Regions from separate parts of the Homo sapiens genome. Here region 1 is linked to region 2. Evidence: fine-mapped expression QTL. A gene starts in region 2. The other region holds a variant in brackets. All regions are shown on one strand. Distances are from middle to middle. Region 1 overlaps RAB11FIP3 (RAB11 family interacting protein 3). Region 2 holds the start of METTL26 (methyltransferase like 26).

The links. PIP is the estimated chance that this variant, and not a neighbour inherited with it, causes the effect. A credible set is the group of variants that fine-mapping cannot tell apart.
Region 1: its variant is the best candidate, but not a certain one, in a credible set for the expression of METTL26 in cerebellum (GTEx, PIP 0.83).

Annotation. Positions count from the first base shown.
Region 1 is chr16:447,470-450,369 of GRCh38, reverse strand. The region is part of intron 1 of RAB11FIP3 (RAB11 family interacting protein 3); the gene reads right to left. Among named protein-coding and RNA genes, the nearest start is that of RAB11FIP3, 23 kb to the right of the region's middle. The variant G/A (reference allele first, on the strand shown) is at 1,157.
Region 2 is chr16:635,022-637,921 of GRCh38, reverse strand. METTL26 (methyltransferase like 26) reads left to right here and starts at 1,617. Exons shown (of 6, transcript NM_032366.5): 1 at 1,617-1,828; 2 at 2,148-2,310; 3 at 2,582-2,641. The coding sequence starts at 1,632. TRG-CCC2-2 (tRNA-Gly (anticodon CCC) 2-2) reads left to right here and starts at 1,116; the gene lies at 1,116-1,186. LOC100287175 (a long non-coding RNA gene) reads right to left here and starts at 970. Exons shown (of 4, transcript NR_149003.1): 1 at 866-970. RefSeq lists enhancers at 1-587, 2,018-2,677 and silencers at 1,606-1,725, 1,776-1,955.

The sequences.
Region 1 (2,900 bases), 190 kb after region 2:
AAAAATATCTACCAAAAATACAAAAAATTAGCCAGAGCTGGGCATGGTGGTGCATGCTTGTGGTCCCAGCTACTCGGGAGGGTGAGACAGAAGGATCGCTTGAGCCCGGGAGGCAGAGGTTGCAGTATACCAAGATTGTTCCACTGCACTCCAGCCTGGGCGACAGAGTGAGACCCTGTCTCAAGAAAGAGAAAAAAAGTTTGTTGTGCACGTTCGGCAGGTCAAATGGTGAACTTCCTTGTAGGTGGCCTGGGTAGTGACCTGGCTTCCATGTTGTCAAGGAAGGTGTGCCAAGACTAGACCATGGTAGCAGGCAGAATTCTAAGACCCCCTCTCTTGAGTGTGGGCAAGGCCTGTGCATGTGGTGGCACAGTCACTGTGACGAGGTTAACTTAATCTTTAAAACAAAATTTTTTTTTGAGATGGAGCCTCACTCTGTCGCCCAGGCTAGAGTGCAGTGGCACGACCTTGGCTCACTGCAACCTCTGCTTCCCGGGTTCAAACAATTCTCCTGCCTCAGTCTACGCAACAGCTGGGATTACAGATGCCCGCCATCACGCACGGCTAATTTTGTATTTTTAGTAGAGACAGGGTTTCACGATGTTGGCCAGGCGGGTCTCAAACTCCTGACCTCAAGTGATCCACCCAACTCAGCCTCCCAAAGTGCTGGGATTATAGCTGTGAGCCACTGCACCCGGCCTAAAACTTTTTTTTTTTTTTTTTGAGATAGGGTCTCCCTGTCACCCAGGCTGGAGTGCAGTGGTGTGGTAAACACAGCTCACTGCAGCCTCAAGATCCTAGGCTCAAGCGATCCTCCCACCTCAGCCTCCTGAGTAGCTGGGACTACAGGTGTGAGCCACCACACCTAGCTGTGATTTATGTTAACTTAAGACTCCATCGTAGCAGCCTCCTGGTCTCAAAGAAGAAGTAAGCTGCCATACCTGGGAGGACCATGTGGTTGAACCTGAGGGTTCTCCAGGACCTAAGAACCATTTCTGGCAAACGACCAACCAGCAAACAGGGTCCTCAGTTCTATAACCTCAAGGAGCTGAATTCTGCTGAGCACCTGAATGAGCCCGACACTCTGTCCCGCCTGGTGACAGCGCTGTGAGACACTGAGCTGGAGATATACAGGACTGCATATTCCAGGCAGAGG[G/A]AATAGCTACTGCACAGGCCTGGAGGAGGATGTGTGCCTGTGGAGTGTCAGGAGCAGAGTGAGCAGGGGGCCGGCAGCTGGAAGTGAGGTTGGAGGGGCAAGAGGGCCAGAGCATAGCATGAGGAGGACTCTACTGTGTAGAGTGTGGTGGTCTCAGCGGACAGAGCAGGACCTAGCTATCTTTGGGAGCCATTATTTGGCCTACCACAGCCATCTTACTTTTTAAATTTCAGGTATAATTTCCATCCTGTTTTTATTTACTTATTTATTTACTTATTTATGTTATTCAATTTTTTTTTAGACAGAGTTTCACTCTTGTTGCCCAGGCTGGAGTGCAGTGGTGCGATCTTGGCTCACCGCAACCCCCACCTCCCAGGTTCAAGTGATTCTCCTGCTTCAGCCTCCCGAGTAGCTGGGATTACAGGCATGCACCACCACGCCCGGCTAATTTTGTATTTTTTTTTTTTTTTTTTTTCTTGAGACGGAGTCTCGTTCTGCTGCCCAGGCTGGAGTGCAGTGGCACCATCTCGGCTCACTGCAAGCTCCGCCTCCTGGGTTCACGCCATTCTCCTGCCTCAGCCTCCCGAGTAGCTGGGACTACAGGCGCCCGCCACCATGCCCGGCTAATATTTTGTATTTTTATTAGAGAAGGGGTTTCACCGTGTTAGCCAGGATGGTCTCGATCTCCTGACCTCGTGATCCACCTGCCTCGGCCTCCCAAAGTGCTGGGATTACAGGCATGAGCCACCGCGCCCGGCCTAATTTTGTATTTTTAGTAGACGGCGTTTCTCCATGTTGATCAGGCTGGTCTCAAACTCCTGACCTCAGGTGATCTGCCCACCTCGGCCTCCCAAAGTGCTAGGATTACAGGCATGAGCCACTGCGCCCGGCTATTTTTTTGAGACAGTTTCCCTCATTGCCCAGGCTAGAGTGCAATGGCGCAATCTCGACTCACTGCAACCTCTGCCTCATGGTTTCAAGTGATTCTCCTGCCTCAGCCTCCCAAGTAGCTGGGACTACAGATGCGCGCCACCACGCTCGGCTAATTTTTGTATTTTTAGTAGAGATTGGTTTCACCATGTTGGCCAGGCTGGTCTCAAACTCCTGACCTCACATGATCCGCCCACCTCGGCCTCCCAAAATGCTAGGATTACAGGTGTGAGCCACTGCGCCTGGACAATACGCTTTTTCATATGTCAAATTTTCTTTACAGTTTTTTTTCTTTTTCCTTTTTTAATTTTGTTCCACTATTTTAAATTGTCAGCGTTATTTTTCACAATTCATTGTGCCTGGCCCGTCCTGTTGTTTTAAATTAGTTGACCTGAAAGCTGAATGTAACCCTTTGTTCTCACCCTTTCTTCAGATGTGCTCATGTTGTTCACATTAACCAGACAACAGTCTGAGCATGAGTCTCTTAATGAATTTCTGTAGGGAGACAGGTATAATTTATACGTTTTAGTCTTCTTTTCTTTTTTGGAGATGGAGTCTCGCTCTGTTGCCCAGGCTGGAGCGCAGTGGCGCGATCTCGGCTCACTGCAACCTCTGCCCCCCGGGTTCACACCATTCTCCTGCCTTAGCCCACTGAGTAGCTGGGACTATAGGTGCCTGCCACCACGCCCGGCTAATTTTTTTGTACTATTAGGAGAGACGAGGTTTCACCGTGTTAGCCAGGATGGTCTCGATCTCCTGACATCGTGATCCACCGCCTCGGCCTCCCAAAGTGCTGGGATTACAGGTGTGAGCC
Region 2 (2,900 bases):
GGGGTTGGGGGCAGGGTGCGCATTGAAGGAGGCGCAGGGAAAGTGCTCAGCCCACAGAAAGAGAGATGGAGGCGGCCAGTCAGGCGAGGAAAGCGTGGGCTTGGGCCGCAGAGCCTGCTGCAGGGTCTGGCCAGTCACCACCACGGCGGACACCAACATCTCCTGGCAGGGTTGTCCCTGACCCCTGACTCCCTGAGCCCCCCATGGCCCGCGTTCCCAGTCCCAGACTGGCAGCCTGTAAGCCACTCTCCTACCCTGAGCCACGTGACTGGCCCTCCCTGGTTTACCCCTTCCAACGTCCTTGCCCTAGCCAGAGCGATATGGGGTTCCCATTGGTGAAAAACGGCTCAGCAAAGGCGCTAAGCCAGTCCTGAATGCAGAGCCAGGCGCTTGGCACTTTCTGGAGAAGAGCCCGGCTCTGAGGCTGGGACCCCAACCCTCGGGCGCACATAAATCGCGGCCTGTGACTTGATTTCGGGGGTCACCGACCGACCCCTCACGCTATCCGTGGGCCCTGAGCTGGTGCTGTTACCCCAGTGTCACAGAGAAACCCTGGGGCATTATTCGTGCCCCTCCCGCAGACCGCCCAGTTCTGCAGGCTGGGACCGCCCGCCCCGCCCTCTGCCGCCCCTGCCGCCCCTGCCGCCCCTGCCGCCCCTGCCGCAACCCCGCTCTGGCCCCGCCCCAACCCGCCAGTCCACACTCATGTCCCGCCCCCCAGCCCCGCCTCCCCTCTCGGACCCGCCCCGATATGGCCCCGCCCCTCCGGCAACCCCGCCCTAAACTCGGACCAACAGGGGGCCCCAGCCCAGCCCCGCCCTCTCCCCAGCCCCGCCCCGACAGGGCCTCGCCCCCATCGGCTCACGAAGGCCAACGGCTTCCACGGCTCAGGCCCGAATCGAGACTGTCCTCCAGCTCGCGTCCTTCACGCCCGCTCCTTCCCCTCCGGCACTGGGGGGCACCGCGAGACTCTTACCCTCGCGGTCCCGCCAGCTGGGTCCTCCTATGCAGTCGCCAGCTCCCTTGCGCTGAGCCCGGCGCCAGCGGCGGCGCACGCCCGGAGGACTTCCCGCGTCACAGTCTCTTGTCTCCGCGGGCAGCAACTGTCTTAGACAGCGCCGCTGGTGTAGTGGTATCATGCAAGATTCCCATTCTTGCGACCCGGGTTCGATTCCCGGGCGGCGCACTTAGTTTTTTTTCCCATTTGAACATCGAACTCTCGCTAACGCCAGAAATTTAAAAGTAGAGAAAACCCGAAACCAAGGGAAGGCGCCCAGTCTGGCGCAGCGCTGACACAAATTTCGGAGAGTGACACAGGTGCCCTGAAAACCCTGGACGGCCATGGGCGACAGGGTGCCTGAGCTGAGGCGCCTGTAAACCAGCAAGCCAAGCTCGCCGTTCAGTCCCCTGCCTGGGACCGCCACACACCGCTGAGCCGCTCCCCACCGTGCCTCTGGCGACTGCTGGTCCTTTAACAGGAGGCGCGCGTGCTCCTGGGAGTTGTAGTTTATCAGCTTCCGACGTGCCCCGCGGTATCTGGACTACAGCTCCCGACGTGCCCCGCGGAAGCCCGGCCACCGCCCCCGACGCGACCCGCGCCGCGTCCGCGGCGGGGAGTTGTTGCTGCCGCGATGCTGGTGGCGGCGGCCGCGGAGCGGAACAAGGATCCCATCTTGCACGTGCTGCGGCAGTACCTGGATCCGGCCCAGCGTGGCGTCCGCGTCCTCGAGGTGGCCTCGGGCTCCGGCCAGCACGCAGCGCACTTCGCGCGGGCCTTCCCCCTGGCCGAGTGGCAGCCGTCGGACGTGGACCAGCGCTGCCTGGACAGGTGCGGCCCCCGGGGCGGCCACTTCTATCGGTGCGGCGGTCCGGGGCCTCAAGAGCCCACGGCCCGCAGCCCCGGAGGAAAAGGATGCGGCTCGGGCTCTGAGGGTGCGGGGTGGGAGCCTGGGGGTGCCCCCGGGGCAGGCCCTAGCTGTGCGGCCCCCGCGGCTGCGGAAGTGGGTGGACCTCGGGGTCCCCCTTCCCAGCCGCTTTGGTCTCCGCTCCTCAACGTGCCCCCCAGCCTCCCCTAAGAAATTCTGTGGGGGCGTCGGAAAGGCGGGTGCACAGGACTCGGCCCCCACCCAAGCGTTCGCCTCCTGCAGCATCGCGGCCACCACGCAAGCCCAGGGCCTGACCAACGTGAAGGCCCCGCTACACCTGGACGTGACGTGGGGCTGGGAGCACTGGGGCGGGATCCTGCCACAGTCGCTGGACCTGTTGCTCTGCATCAACATGGCCCATGTCAGCCCCCTGCGCTGCACGGAGGTCTGTGGGGAGCCCAGCATGGGTGTCTGCCGTGGCACCACTCACCCTGCATGGGGGCAGCTGGGATGCCAGATTTGCCCCCATCACAGTCGGGGTGAGGGTCTCCAGCCTCCCCCATCACAGTCGGGGTGAGGGTCTCCAGCCTCCCCCATCACAGTCGGGGTGAGGGTCTCCAGCCTCCCCCATCACAGTCGGGGTGAGGGTCTCCAGCCTCAGGGCCTGGCTTCTGTTGGGGGCAGCACCTCACTGCCGTCCTGTTCCTACTCACCAGGGGCTCTTCAGAGCAGCAGGACACCTGCTCAAACCCAGGGCCCTGCTCATCACCTACGGGGTGAGTGGGCCTGTCCACGGCGGGCCTCCCGCTCCCAGTCCTAGCTGCTGTCTCCTGCCCTGCTGAGAGTCCTCCCTCCTGGGCTCCCTGCCCCCCGCCCAGCCACCAGCACGGCCTCCCCTCCACTTCCAGTCTGTACCCCTCCCTGGGTCATCTGCCAGCCTCCCTACCCCCTTGCCCACCAGGCTGGCCTTGGCTGACTCCCTCTTGGGGACAGGGAGGGGGTGCCCTTTCATTCTCCAAACCCCAGCCTGCAAGT